Linked DNA regions of Homo sapiens: region 2 is linked to region 1. A link means that fine-mapping ties the variant in region 1 to the expression of a gene that starts in the linked region. Tissue or cell type: tibial artery. Region 1 holds a variant in brackets; the other region holds the start of a gene. All regions are shown on one strand. Distances are between the middles of the regions.

Region 1 (8,108 bases):
AATGAGAGTACCTAGGCAGACCTTGTGTGTTCAGACTCTGCAGACCTCTGGTCCATATAACACATGCGTCTCAGTTAGAGATTGAGACTTTTCATGATGTCCAAGGTTGCTACTGCCAGAATGCTGAATCTATCAGCAGCCCTTGTTCTACATACAATTTGGTTTTATTCATTCAGCATATATTTATTGAGCACCGATAATGAAAATCCTAGGTCTGTTCCTTGCTCTCTTCATGGTGCATGACAGGAGAGCAATTCATCCAGTTTGCATGTCCCAGGTTTCTGCATTATTTGGCTTCCAGTAGGATCCAGACAACAGGAGACAACAAAAGATGAGAGAGGGAGGAGAGGAAAAGCCAGGTAGTTCCCCCTTTCCATCTTTGCCTTTGTCGGCATCCCCGTCAACAGCTGTGTCTGTCTCCCCCATGACTCCACTCCCCACTGTGTGGGGAGCTGTGTATCCTGCTGTGGTCCTAGCCTCCCTCATGTGACCCTGGCCCCTAGGCTCTGGTAGTACTACCCACTCCCTCTGTCCCTTAAGCCTCCAAGGGTGGTACCAGCTTCTTTTGTTGTTAGTCTCAGGGCTGCCTCACTGTGCTCTGGTTGTTTCCTCAGCCTCTTCTATTGCTTGTGCAACCAAATCCTCCCATTAACTTCCATTCTGTAGGAACTCAGAGTTGTTTCTGCTTTCCCATGTGGATCCTGATTAATCACGTATCAAGCACAATGGCATGTCTGGATAAAATGGAATGCAAAACCAGGAATAGCCCCTGCCCTCATGGAGTTTATAGTTTCGTAGGAAAAGCATATTTTCATAGAATAATCCTAAAATACTTATGAGATGATTGCACAAGATTGAATAATTGAAGATTATCAAAAGACTCACAAGATTTCACAGTGTGTATTTGAGTAAGGTTTTAATACAGGTGAAGGATACATTAGGACACAGAGCACAGATGATCACAGAGGGGTCTAGGGCTTCCAGGCACAGCCCCCCAGGGTCCATTTTAATCACTCGGTACAGGACACATTTTATCTTCAGATTATATACGATCACCGTAAGTGTGAGTCCAGGTATATAATTTATTGAGGGGTCTTTCATACCCACCAGCCATGTAGCTAAACCCAGGCTGTATACCCTGTTAGACCAGGTACAAACTATCAGTCTATACAGTCCTAAACAATGTAGACAAGCTAATACAGGCTGCCTCCAGGGGAATTTCGAGCTTTAAATAGCACATTGCACATTATAAAGTCCTCAGTAGCACATTTCATTCTTACCTTGACCAGACTTCAAGCATCCCAGGAGACAAACAGAGGGCTACCCCAGGATAGCTGCAAGGTAACGCTACCTTATACAACATATGAACTTATAGTGGTGCTACAGAATAGGGGAAATTTTCACTAATGAAATGGTATTTTAGCTGAACTCTAAAGAATGAGTGAGGAATTAAGTTGACCCAGAGGGAAGAGAGGAATTGAGTAGAAGCAGCAGCATTTTGCAGTGCAGACCCATTCCAGCAAGTGAAATAAAAGCAATGTGACAAGAAATAAATAAAAAATGGTCAGGGAAAAGAGGCCAAAGCCACATCCTGGAGAGATTTGTAAGACAACCATATGGATTTGGAAAGTGATGGATTTCCATTTGATTCTGCTGATTCGTCCCTTGTCCTAGAAATTTTCTTGACTTTAGCAACACCACAGTTTCCTGGTGCTTCTCAATATCCTTTGTAGCCATGCTTTTTGCATCAGGACTCTCAACACCAGCAGACAATAACAAGAGAATTATTAAGACTTAGAAAAAGAGAATTCTTAATACAGAATTTCAAGGGGTGGATTGAGCAAGACTGGAGGCAAAACATCTTCCCTGAAAACCATTTCTCTCTTCCTTGCTTGCTGACATTCTCACTGTCTGGCTCCCTTGCTCTCTCTACTTGGCTTTAGTCTGTGTGAGCTCCAACCTTAGCTAGAATGTAGCAAAGATGTCCACCAGAAGCTCCAGGGTTACATCCTAGAACTCCAAGTGAAATGAGGTACTCTTTCCCAGCTGGTCCTGTGAAAACCCTGATCGCACTCTCAATGGTCAGGCTTGAGTCAAGGGTCTTTCTCCACACCAGTCATTATACAACAGGACACAAGATTCTGATTGGCCAGATCATTTTGTCAGCCCATGACTCAGGGAATGAGTCACTCTACCCAAAACACCAGACTGCTACTTGTATAGGTGTGGGCTCCCAAGAAAAAGTAGGGATTATTCTTCCCCAAAAAAAGAGTTAGGGATGCTGGAAAGGCAGAAAGAAAAGGGAAGGGAAGAGGAAGGGGAAAAGGAAAGAAAAAAAAGAAAGAAAGAAAGAGAAAGAAAGAGAAAGAGAAAGAAAGAGGAAAGAGAGAAAGAGAAAGAGAAGGAAAGAGAAAGAAAGAGAAGGAAAGAGAGAAAGAGAAAGAGAAAGAGAGAGAAAGAAAGGAAGGAAGGAAGAAAAATGAAGGGAGGAAGGAAAAAGGAGACAGGAAGGAAGAAAGAAAAAGAAGAAAAAAGAGAGGGGAAGAAAAGAAAGGAATAAAGAAAGAAGAGAAAGATGGAGAAGAAAACAAACCAAAAAAGTGGCTACTACAACCTCCGCCTGACCATTAAATGTCGGAATTTCTCAAGACTCAGTTTCAAACCTTCATCTCACACTACGAGCTCTCCCTAGGCAAGCTCATTTGCACTCTCTCCTTGGAATGACTCCCACATTTGTGTCTTAAGCGTAGTTATTTCATCTAAGCCTACAGAAACATATCTAATTATACTTGACATCAGTTCTTGAATTTACAAACGCTCCTGAAACTCAACAATTCCCAAATCAAACTTTAGACCTCTACTGCCCATCCTTAAGTCTAGTTTACTTCGAGTGTTTTCTAGTTCAGTAATGGAACCACCAACATTCTGCTATGAAAGCCAAACTCCCAGATATCATCATGACTTGCTTCCCCAAGCACCCACCCACCCCAATTCAACTCCATTTAATCTCATAAATTCTTGTGACTCTTCCTCCTACTATCTCCACCCTTACCGCCGTAGTCTACCTTATCATCTTACCCAGAAAACTGTAAGAAATATTCTGATCTGTTCTTTTATCTCCTTCTGTCCTGCAGTCTATCTATACATTGATGCCAGACAAGTCTTTTCAAGGATGAAAAGTGATTACTTCAGTACTCTACCTACCATCTAATTAAAATACTTTCAAAATTACTGATTTTCTTAATAATATAAGAAAATGTATGTGAACATGGCCTATGATCACCTGAGCGGTCTGAGCATACTTACTCCTCCCCCAGATCAGGCCTTTAAACACTCTGCTGTAGACAGTCTGTTATTTTATTTTATGTACATGCTCCCACCTTCCATTAAGTTTTTGCATAAACTGTATCCTCCTTGTCCAGGAATTCATTCTCCCTCCTCTTCCCCAATACCTCATCTGCTTAATTTTCCATTCCTTTTTCATCTCAGAGAAATCATCTCTTTGTTAGGGCAGACTTCCTCACCTTCCTCACGAAGTTAAATTCTCTTCCTATATACATTCATAGATCACAATGCACCTTCCTTCACGGCACTTACCGCAGTTGCAACTATATCTTCACCTGTGCAATTATTTGAATAATATTTAATTATTTGACACCATAACTGTCATGACTGAACATTCCAAAATATACCACATATTTTCTGGCCACATTGATGGGATTATAACATAATATAAACTTGAATTATTTTAAAATTTGTGCACAACTGAAAATCACGTATGTACTTTCTCAGTGCCTCTTTATGTGGAGAGTTTATCTTATACTAATTCATCCCTGACTATTGTACTCCTGAGTTCCTGCCTCTGTTCTTTAGAATGGTTTCTATTTTTTTTCTGCTGGACTGTATTAGCCTTTCCTTTTGCCACTGGGAACATAGCTGTTTGTAGCTATCCCAGGTGTATAAGTAACCTAAATGGCTGCTTATAATTTCTGCCCACTAGGAGAGGGACTCCTTTACTCCATTAGTCTCCTGTTTGAATCTTAACTCTGCCCCAGGCTTCAGGATACATAAACACTGCCAATCATTCTTAAGAAGTGAAGGGATTGCAAATAAGCAAAGAAAAAGTA[A/T]TTTTAAACATTCTTTCCAAATGACCTTGCAAGAGTTTTTTCCATTTTTAGAGGGAATAGTGGGAGTCAGAATTGGCAGAATAAAAGCAGCGTATTCCTAGACCATATATCAGCAGATAAATGTGTTCTGCAGCATTAAAATTACCCTTGTGGTGCTCATTCCTGGATGTACCATGTGTTCTGTGATGTAAATCAGTACATAGCCTTATATTTTCCTCTGTGTCATGGACCCACAGAATTGCAGTAGCATGAACTGGTTGGCAACAAAATTCTTTCCAGTGCTTCATAAAGCCTTTGGCTTTTCTTCATTTGATATGTGTGAGTAGGAATGCACAAAAAACAAGAACAGATGATATTATTTAAACCGTTTGGTAAGAAATGTCTGACAGGAAAAAAGAAAACATATGTATCGATTCAAGTGCAGTAATTCGCTTGGCGGTTTTCTATATTATCCTTTCTACTTGTAAAAATCATCTCCAATGCAGCAAAATGTTCTTAAATCCTTTATACTTCATTCTAAAAATCAATAGTCCAAAGATGTTAACTCTTTTTGGGCTTTTGGAAAACAAAACAAAAACCAGAAAAGAGAGGATAAATGTTTTCATTTTTATCTAAATTTTTCTGGTTGTTTCTGGTTTTTCCGTCTCCACTTCATTATTACTAACATGGAATTATTGATAAAGCTTAAAAGAAGAGAAACACAAATTCAGACTTTAGGAACTCACTTGAAATCCTTACTTAAAGACTAAAAGTCATTCATTTATTCATTTCATTCAATAAATACTAAGGATCTACTATTTTCCAGTTGGCCTCTTTGGCACTGGTGTATAATGCTACACGCAGCACTCACTGCTCCCTTGGTTCCTGCCACCATAATAGGGAGATAGCAATTAAATAAACACAGCTATATTATTATAAATTGGGATGCATGTTACCATGGAAAAGTACTGGGTGGAGTTTTAGTTTGAGAGTCAGGGAGTGCCTCTCTGAAGAAATGTCTACTATGAGACCTAAAAAATGAGTAGAAGTTGTCAGATTAAGGGGAGGAAAGGTGTTTTAGCCTGTTTTCTGCTACTATAACAGAATACCACAAACTGTGTAATTTATAAACAATAGACATTTATTTGGTTCATAGTTCTGGAGACTGGGAAGTCCAAGGTCAAGGGGCTGCATCTGGTGAGAGCCTTCTTGTTGCACCATAACATGGTGGAAGGGCAAACAAGCAAGTGAGACAGAGAGAAAAAGTAGGCCAAACTCCCAAGATAACTAGCCTACTGCCAAGATAACAGCATTAACCCATTCATAAGGACAGAGCCCTCATGACTAACCTCTTAAAAGCCCCACTGCCTGATAGAACTATATTGACAGTTAAATTTCAATATGAACTATGGAGAACAGTTTGGAGGTTCCTCAAGAAACTAAAAAAATAGCTACCATATGATCTAGCAAGCCCACTGCTGGGTATATACCCAAAGTAAAGGAAATCAATATATTGAAGGGATATCTGCACTTCCATGTTTGTTGCAGCTCTGTTCACAATAGCCAAGATTCAGAAGCAACCTAAGTGTCCATCAAGAGATGAATGGATAAAGAAAATGTGGTACTTATACACAATGGAGTACTATTCAGCCATAAAAAAGAATGAGACCCTGTCATTTGCAGCAACATGGGTGGAACTGGAGGTCATTATATTAAGAGAAATAAGCCAGGCAAGAAAAGACAAACATTGCATGTTGTCACCTATTTGTACGATCTAAAAATCAAAACAATGGAACCCAAGGAGATAGAGAGTAGAAGGATGGTTACCAGAGGCTGGGAAGGGTAGTGGGGAAATGGGAGACAGGGTAGAAAAGGTTAATGAGTACGAACAATAATTAGAATGAATGAATAAGGCCTGGTATTTGATAGCACAATAGGGTGACTGTAGTCAATAGTAATTTAATTGTAAATTTAAAAATAACTGTAATTGGATTGTTTATACCAGAAAAGACAGACGCTTGGGGTGATGGATAGCCCATTTTCCATGATGTGATTACACATTGCATACCTGTATCTAAACATCTCATGTACCCCATGATGCAACTACCATATATCCACAAAAATTAAATATAAAACATTATATAAAAATTTCCACATAATTTTCAAAAGGGATACTCTATAGTGGCGTGGGGAGGCAATCTACACATGAGGGGGAAATACCTGCCACAACTCTGAGGCCAGAAAGAGCCTGGCTTGGTGAAGAGCAGGAAGAAAACCAGAAAAGCTTGCACAAAGATGGTGGTAGCAAGGGGAAGCCAGCTTAGGACAAGGTTGACGAAGAGGACGGGGCCAGATATCGAGGAACTCGCAGGGAAGAGTAAGGAGTGTGGATTTCTTTCCAAGTTCAATTGGTTTTCACATTGCTGATAGCATCTCCCAAGTGATTACAAGTCACATTGCTCTGTATCATCCATAAATTATCCTCAAGAACTCCTAGGGCCATAACAATTTTATGAAGGACTCAGCTCTGATAATAGAAAGTCAATATTTTTAGTCTCTAGCTTTTCAAGTAGGCAGCTGGAAGTATAGCCAAAGGATTTCAGATTTCACAAATGTGAGATCAAGAGACATCTGCTAGTCTCTGTTCAATCTCTAATTTTCCTGTGTCTTTCTAAGTGACACAGAATTAGTAGGCTTAGAATTTGCTGTAAAAACTTGTTAAATCCATGCTTTGTTCTTTAACAGCATCTTAGCTCTTCTGCTTACTAGCTTTGTGACTTGGCAAGTTGTTTGACCTCTCAGATTCTGTTTTCTCATGTATAAAATAGGGACACACTACAGTAGTGATTAGCACTATTCACCAAATATTTCCTGCTCTCTCCACTTTGGACACACGGTAGGATTATACTCTCTGCCCCATTCCCTTGTAGTTAGGTGGTGTCAGGTGACTAGTTCTGACGAATGAGCTATGCATGGAAGTGAGGTTTGCCATTTCCAGGCTGGAGCTTTTGATTGCAAGTGTGAGGCTCTCTGAGCAATCCTCCCCTCTGCTGCCGGCCGCTCTGTCAGCCTAGGAAATATGGAGTAGGATGCAGAGTTGCCCATCAATGGACATGGTGGGTTATAAGCAACTGGGACTTTAGGTTATTGACCAGCCTCACTAACAGACTTACTTCATAGGTTTGTGATTAGAACTTGTATTCATCCATTCTTACACTGCTATTAAAAATACCTGAGACTGGGTAATTTATAAACAAAAGAGGTTTAATTGGCTCACAGTTCTGCAGGCTATACAGGAAGCATAGCAACTTCTGGCTCAGGGGAGACTTCAGAAAGCTTCCAATTATGGCAGAAGGCAAAGGGGCAGCGAGGCACTTCACGGCCAGAGTAGGAAGAAGAGAGAGGGTGGGGAGGTGCCACACACTTTTAAACAACCAGCTCTCATGAGAATTCACTCACTATACAGTATCAAGCAGCGGACGATGCTAAACCATTCACGATAACTTTGTCCCCATGATCCACTCACCTCCCACCAGGCCCCTTCTCCAACACTGGGGACATGGTGATTTGGGTGGGGACATGCATGATTTGACATGAGATTTGGGTGGGGACACAGATCCATACCATATCAGAACTTAATGGGATAATAGACACTAGGCAATTGTTATACTATCTGGCACACTATGAAGTACTAAATATAGGTTTCTATATTTCAAGTAAGCATTACCGGATTTCTCTGCCCAAGCATTTGCGTAGCTTTCAGGATTTAATTTTCAAGCCCAGAATTGAATGATTCAAGTTACCGTTAGAAATATTTACCCTGACATTTAATTATACATGCAAATTATTGGCCATCGTTTGTAAATCATATTTTTGGTTTATGATAATAGGTGATCTGCAAGAACCTCCAAGAACTGAACATTACTGTGCTCACAAAAGTAAACTCATAATGGCTGAAAACATATCTAATCTCCTTTTCAATAAATAATGATATGCAACTGA
Region 2 (8,108 bases), 33 kb before region 1:
TATAAAACAACAGCTCTATAGCCTGCTATTCAGACCAGTAAATAAGAGTTTAAGGGCTTGTGATAGCAAATGAAGTTTCTTATTGGATTTTAAGAAAAATTTTTATAAAAATATGTGAGGTTATTCAATAGAATCACATTTAATTTGCCAAGCATTTTGCAGAATGCCTAGGACTATGTAAGAAGTATTAAATTTGCAAGCCCTTTGAATAGTTGTAATTTAAAGATAAAAATTGGTTTAATACCAGACAAAGATAGAAGCACAAGTTAGGTTATTAGAGAATTTAGCCAGTGTATCAGTTTGTATCGTAAGTCATTGGCAAGAACAACGTGTACTTTTCTGTCACCTCCCAACTAGCTATGTTTTGAGCAGTAGGAATATTTAATACCCCTTCCTCCCATTTTTCCTTTGTGTTGTCCAAATTCTGACAACTCTACTGCCAGATAGCTCAGGGCAAAAATGATAAAGTTCAAGTTAAGAAGGCTCTGCAGTGTTCTCAGTTCTCCTCTGGTGAAAGAGGAGAAAGGTTGTGTTTAATTATGAATCTGGGATTTCCAAAACTTTACCCATGCCCTGCCTGTCCCCTCATTAGCATGAAGCTGTTATTTAAATAGTTCAGCAATAACGACTTTAGTAGCCTCCCTAGGTTAAAAAGATTGAAATTAAATGTGTTTATCTATTGTTCTACTATTCAGTTACCTGATTATAAAATCAAAGATTATTTCATGAAACTCAGTACCCCTTCAGGGAAAAAAAAAAAAAATTCCCTAAAACAAAGTTAGGAGAGTGAATCGGACCACATGCTTATCTCCAAGGTCTCAATCAAACAGCAAATGCTTACCCAACTTCTATTCAAAATATTTGCGCCAGTAGTTCTGATATGACCCAAGCAGAGTTCACACATTATTAATCTACTCCTTTCAGTCTTCTAGATGTGTTTCCTCCAAAATCTACCAGATTCTCAAATAATTTCAGGAACTTTCTCCAGAACAGAAACAAGGTTGTTACTGATACCAACTTTGTCTCCAAACATGGGGAAGATTATCATTGGAAAGATCTATTGATGACCTATAATACATAGTTGGAACTGTTTATCCACAGAAGTATTCCCCAAGAATCAACCACAGAGCCAAGATGGAGCTTATGTCATTGTTATGCATACTTCTTTTACGGCTTGTGAGGGCAGTTCATACTATTCTGATTTTACAACTGAGACCCAAGGAACCTGAGTGACTTCTAGGCTCCATTATGTCAAAAAAAACTCAAATGTGAGGCTTTGCCTACACTGAGAAACAGTAGTTCAAGAAACGGTGCCCTGGTTCTGTTAAAATAATCTGAGAGTTATGTGGTAAGTAGTTGAGAGTGAATAGGGTAGCTTTGAGAGGTGACAGCGTGCTGGCAGTCCTCACAGCCCTCGCTGGCTCCAGGCGCCTCCTCTGCCTGGGCTCCCACTTTGGCGGCACTTGAGGAGCCCTTCAGCCCACCACTGCACTGTGGGAGCCCCTTTCTGGGCTGGCCAAGGCCGGAGCCGGCTCCCTCAGCTTGCAGGGAGGTGTGGAGGGAGAGGCGCGAGCGGCAACCGGGGCTGCGCACGGCGTTTGCGGGCCAGCTGGAGTTCTGGGTGGGCGTGGGCTTGGCGGGCCCCGCACTCGGAGCAGCCGGCCAGCCCTTCCAGCCCCAGGCAATGAGAGGCTTAGCACCCGGGCCAGCAGCTGCGGAGGGTGTACTCCGTCCCCCAGCAGTGCCAGCTCACAGGCGCTGCGCTCAATTTCTCACCGGGCCTTAGCTGCCTTCGCGCGGGGGGTGCTCGGGACCTGCAGCCCGCCATGCCTGAGCTCCCACCCCCTCCATGGGCTCCCGTGCGCCCGAGCCTCCCCGATGAGCACCACCCCCTGCTCCACGGCGCCCAGTCCCATCGACCACCCAAGAGCTGAGGAGTGCGGGCGCACGGCGCGGGACTGGCAGGCAGCTCCACCTGCAGCTCTCGTGCGGGATTCACTGGGGGAAGCCAGCTGGGCTCCTGAGTCTGGTGGGGACGTGGAGAACCTTTATGTCTAGCTCAGGGATTGTAAATACACCAATCGGCACTCCGTATCTAGCTCAAGGTTTGTAAACACACCAATCAGCACCCTGTGTCTAGCTTAGTGTTTGTGAACGCACCAAGCCACACTCTGTATCTAGCTACTCTGGTGGGGCTTTGGAGAACCTTTGTGTCCACACTCTGTAGCCAGCTAATCTGGTGGGGACATGGAGAACCTTTGGGTGTAGCTCAGGGATTGTAAACGCACCAATCAGCGCCCTGTCAAAACAGAGGACTCGGCTCTACCAATCAGCAGGATGTGGGTGGGGCCAGATAAGAGCATAAAAGCAGGCTGCCTGAGCCAGCAGTGGCAACCCGCTTGGGTTCCCTTCCACACTGTGGAAGGTTTGTTCTTTCACTGTTTGCAATAAATCTTGCTGCTGCTCACTCTTGGGGTCCACACTGCTTTTATGAGCTGTAACACTCACTGCGAAGGTCTGCAGCTTCACTCCTGAAGCCAGCGAGACCACGAGCCCACCAGGAGGAACCAACAACTCCAGAAGCGCCGCCTTAAGAGCTGTAACACTCACCGTGAAGGTCTGCAGCTTCACTCCTGAGCCAGCGAGACCACGAACCCACCAGAAGGAAGAAACTCCGAACACATCCGAACATCAGAAGGAACAAACTCCAGATGCGCCACATTAAGAGCTGTAACACTCACCGCGAGGGTCCCTGGCTTCATTCTTGAAGTCAGTGAGACCAAGAACCCACCAATTTTGGACACAGTTTGACAATAAATTTACACTCAAATATCTCTAAGGAATCAAACTTACAGATTAATAATTAGTAATCAGGTCACGTAAAGTAAATTATAAAAGAGCATTGATACCAAGATTGGCAGAAAGTTTTTTGTGTGACAAAACCAAGTTTTGGCTAAGATACACACTGCTGATGGGAGTCTAAATTGCTGTATATGTCGGGAAAACAAGTTGTCTTTATCTTGATGTTATAAATAACCTATGACCCAGAAATTTAACTCCTAGACATATACTCTAGTGAAACTCTTGAACGTGTGCGTCCAAAGACATTTATAAACATGATCTTAGTAGTATTGCTTTTAGTAGCAAATTCTGGAAACATCCCAAATGTCTATCAATAGTGGAATTGATTTGAAAGGGGTGTGGAATGGTAATATAATGGAATAGCCTACAGCTGTTTAGATAAAGGAACTCCAATTAAACATACCAACAAAGATACATTTCAAAAACAAGACGTTGAAAGGAAAAAAGTCATCAAAACAATACACAACATTCTACCACATTTTTATAAATTCTCAAAATATGCAATATTAAACATGCATTATTTAGGGAGGCATTCAATGTAGCAATGCATTTTTAAGAGGCTGGGATGATAAATGTAAAATTCAGAACAGGTATTATCTCTGGGAACAGGAAGAGGAGGATGCAGTGTTGGGAAGAAATACATATAAGTACAGCAGTAGAGGCAGACTTTTTTTTCCTTTTCCTTTTTCCTTTATTTTTCCTAGCTTTCTTTTTCTTTAGCTATGGTATTTCTTTAGCTATGGTATGGTATGGTATGTACTTTCCATATATCATACAGTATATTTTGGTGTGCATGAAATAGTCCTTAATAACATTTTTATTATTTTTTATTTGACGTTTAAGTTCAGGGGTACATGTGCAGATTTGTTATATAGGTAAACTTGTGTCATGTGGTTTTGTTGCACAAATTATTTTCTCACCCAGGTATTAAGATTAGTACCCATTAGTTATTTCTCTTGATCCTCTCCCTCCTCCCACTCTCCACCTTCTACCCTCCAATAGGCCCCAGTGTGTGCTGTTCCCCTCTATGTGTCCATGTGTTCTCATCACTTAGCTCTCACTCATAAGTGAGAACATGCAGTATTGGGTTTTCTGTTTCTGCGTTAGCTTGCCAAGGATAATTGCCTCCAGCTCCATATTCCTGCAAAAGACATAATTTTGTTCCTTTATATGGTTGCATAGTATTCCATGGTGTATATGTACCGCATTATCTTTAGCCAGTCTATCATTGATGAGCACTTAGGTTGATTCCATGTCTTCGCTCTTAACATTTTTAAACAGTCTCTGAGTAGAATAGGGTAGGCTGGTGTAAGGAATTACTGTTTTTAATTGGAAGCAATTACATACTGCATTAAAAAGCATATATATATAGACACACATATATATGTTTTACATTCACATAATCAAACCAAAGCTTTCAGAATTTTCCGCCAAAAAGCATGTGTGGAGGGAGAGAGAGGGGTGTTATGGTGCATTTGTAGGCCCTGAAATAAAGTGATCTCCATATTTGCTTCCATTTGTGTATAAATATTTTTTAAGCATATATGCATCCTAGAGTATGGAAAGAAAATTTCTGGGAAGATTTGCAAGAATCTGTGGCAGTTGAGAGTAGGTTCACTTTCGCTTTATTGTGTAATTTATTGTATTTTTCATTTAATTGTACTTTGTAAACTAAATATTTATTGTATATTTTACTTCATTTTTTAATTGCCATATGCAGCTTTAATTTTATAACTAAATTACGTTCTGACCCAGGGCAGGAGGTGGGAGAAGAGAATGAGAGAAGGGCGGAATCCTCAAGACAGCAGCATTCTGCGCTCCGCCCTGGAACACCCAGCGCAGCTACCCCATCCCGCCCAGGCCGGCCACCTGGCGTCGAAGCCAGGCGCGAGGGGCGGAGGCGGAGGCGGGGGCGGGGGCGGAGGCGGAGGCGGAGGCGGAGGCGGAGGCGGAGGCGGAGGCGGAGGCGGAGGCGAGCACCGCCCCACCGCGCACGCTGCGGTTGCCCCGGCAGCCGCGCCCTGCGTGGCGGAAGCTCACAATCAGCCCGGTCCCTCCGGCTTCCACCCCGCCCCCTGCGCTCACCTGCCCGCGCGCTCGCCTTCCGGGGACCCGGGGCCCATGGACACATACACCCAGCCCTGCTGTCCCGCGCGCCAGCTCACCAGCCCTACCCAAGGGACATCATTCACGCCTGGGCGCCTCCGCCGGGCTCCGGGAGCCCAAGGTCGCGGCTGGGCCAGCGCTGAGCGTCAGAGGACGAGAGCAGGGGCCTCCCCGGTCGCCCCAGCAGGCCCAGGCACATAGGTGCCCAGAGATCCCTGGCTTCTGATCGCCCGGAAGACTAAGAGGTGAGCATGACACATGGCTTTTCCTTTGACGTTACATCTCTACCCCCTCCACTCCTCTCTTCTCCAGATTTTTCTGGAGACTAAAAAGTGGAAAGCACAGTAGAGAACCCCCAACATGTAAACTATCGCTTACACTTGTGGGTGAGCTGAAACCCGCAAAAGTTTGGTGTATTCATAAGGAGCCTATATTGAAGGACTTTGCTAAATGTTTTACAAGGATCATATCTCATTTCCTTTTCACACAGTCCCATGAAGTGGGCACCATTGCTATTGCCAGTTCACAGATGCAGAAACTGAGGTAAAAACTAGGTAGGTAGCATATCCATATTTATATCCAACTAGTTTGTGTAAATAATGATACAGGGAAGGGAGGATCACAACGGATTTCCCCACCTCAAACCCTACATTCCACTGTACCAAGCTTGTCTTCCTCCATTCCTCTTTCTAATGATCCTTCCTTGTCGCACAGCCCCCCTTTGAGAGTTAAATGACCTGAACACACACAGATTCCCACAGATTTTCATGTAATTTCCGAGTATTCAGACCCCGAACATGGACCTCAAGTCAAGACATTCTGCTCTATTCCACTACCTTGGTAGATGGTTAGATGTGACTAAGGTGGCCCAGGGTCATGCTGGGGAAAAGTACAGGTGTGCTTGTATGTGGAGGATCCTATATGCTGCTCAATTTACAAGGAACCCAGGACCCAAGGGCTACACTTGTGTGATTTCCTGCAGTGGGGTGAGCTCTTGGTCAGTCTTAGCAGTTGATTGTGAAGGACACTATACAGGGTGCTGCCCTCTCCCCAGCACTTCAGGGCTTTAGCTGGGAGGGAGGCAGTCCACAGGAAACCGACCCATGGACCTACTGAATTCATCACTGTAGCTGCTAATTAATTCTCCGTTAGAGATGGGTGCTAACAGAGGCAACATTGAAGTCCCTGATTGGGAAATCCTTATTTTCACAAATCAAGTGGCATTGATTCAGTCTAATCATTACCTATGTAGGAGCATCTTGCCCTATTCCATAGATGACACATATACATATGCAGTATGATGACACCGCACCTAATCGGAATATGGCCGATAATAATAAAACAAGCCATAAATAGCAGCTAAGGTGAGTGTCACCAAGCCGTGCAGCAAAGTCCAAGTGGATGACTCTGAGGCAGCCTCAGTTGGTTCCCTAGTCCACCGCATGTTATAAACAGATTAAAAGGCAAAGGAGGCCTGGCCCGGTGGCTCACGCCTGTAGTCCCAACACTTTGGGAGGCTGAGGCGGGTGGATCACCTGAGGTCAAGAGTTCAAGATCAGCCTGGCCAACATGGTGAAACCCTGTCTTTACTAAAAATACAAAAATTAGCCAGGTGTGGTGGTGGGCACCTGTAATCCCAGCTACTCGGGAGGCTGAGGCAGGAGAATCGCTTGAACCCAGGAGGTGGAGGTTGCAGTGAGCCGAGATTGTGCCACTACACTCCAGCCTGGGTGACAGAGTGAGAGTTGGGCTGAGGGTCGAGGGTCATGGGATAGGGCGAGACACCAGGGGAGTGTGTGAGGACAGAAAAGAGTCTTGAGGACCTAGCCCTGGGCACCCAACATAGGCTTCTTGAAATGGGGAGTCAGCAAAGGAGCCTGAGCAGGAGGGGGCATTGGTGTTGGATGGAAGCAGGCGATGGAGATGTTGTGGTGCCTAGAGAGACACATTTAAAGGAGAGAGAGCTCACTGCCGTAGAGAATGTAGGTGAGGGAGCAGGCTTGCGATGGAGAAAAATGGTGCATAGTTTCAACTTTTGTAGTAAGATGGAATCTTTTCATTGCAAATGTTGGAAACTTAGCTAACTAGCTTATACCAAAATAAGGTGACGGGGGAGAAGATGTATTTACCCACAAAGTGGTAGATGGCTTCTGGCACCATGGAATCCATGTTGCAACTAATGCCATCAATCTCAGTCTCTCTCCATCCTCCAAGCATGGACTCTCTCTGTGGCACCCAAGAGAGCTACCTGCGCCCCAGCCCCACACCATACTGCTTAACAACTTCAGCAGAATAGTCTTCCCTCATAGTTCTGGATGATGGGCTGCTGATTGGTTGATGTCTTTTATGCACATATGCTTGAGCTTCAGTGTACCTGGAAAGGGATGGTTCCCTCAAATGGGCCAAGCCTAGGCCACAGACGCTTTCCTCTGGCAGGGGACAGAAGGGACAGCCCCATCCAAACGACCCGGATAGGATTCCCTATGTGATAATGGAGTTCTTTTCTCATAAGAAATGAAGAAACAACTGGTCATACCTAGCATGGCCTGCTACTCAATCCAAAAGATTTTCCGTACAAGGAGGTAAAATTACATACTAGAATGCCCATCACAATTTAACAGGGAGATTGTTTATGAAGATTTGCAGTTTCCTTGCAGCCATTTAACTACATCTTTTCCACTTAAGATGACATAGGAATCACTCATCACATCTCTGATATGTTACAGAGCCCAGTAGATTTGTTTATAATGAACACCTCAAAATTATATGTTTTTATAACACCTTAAAACTATTAAAACCTGCATGATCTCTCTATTTTGCTGGTGTGAAACCATGTAGATAGATGGTGGGAACTCAAACCCTTACCATGGCAATTTAGTTAACCTCAGCTTCTTCATGGTAAAATGGTAAAGTGTGATGAGGAGGGAAGGTTAAATGGATAATAAGAAAACCACCTGGCAAACTATTTTTAATTATGATGGAAGATTTGTTTGAACTGTTTTAACTTTATGCCCACTCAATATTTTTGATATTTATGTATAAATCCTACTTTCTGAACATTTCTTAAAAAACAATCTCTGTTCTTAAGGAAGTTCCAAAATATTGTTATTTAATCAAAATGAAGATGATAAAATTAACTT

What was found. PIP is the estimated chance that this variant, and not a neighbour inherited with it, causes the effect.
Region 2: ANKEF1 starts here. The variant in region 1 is fine-mapped to the expression of ANKEF1 in tibial artery (GTEx, PIP above 0.99). The same link has a PIP of 0.9 or more in aorta and coronary artery.

Annotation. Positions count from the first base shown.
Region 1 is chr20:10,063,189-10,071,296 of GRCh38, forward strand. The region is part of intron 3 of SNAP25-AS1 (SNAP25 antisense RNA 1); the gene reads right to left. Among named protein-coding and RNA genes, the nearest start is that of ANKEF1, 32 kb to the left of the region's middle. The variant A/T (reference allele first, on the strand shown) is at 4,128.
Region 2 is chr20:10,030,121-10,038,228 of GRCh38, forward strand. It overlaps ANKEF1 (ankyrin repeat and EF-hand domain containing 1), which reads left to right and starts at 4,867. Exons shown (of 11, transcript NM_022096.6): 1 at 4,867-5,213; 2 at 5,459-5,522. The region is part of intron 3 of SNAP25-AS1 (SNAP25 antisense RNA 1); the gene reads right to left. RefSeq lists a silencer at 4,658-5,207.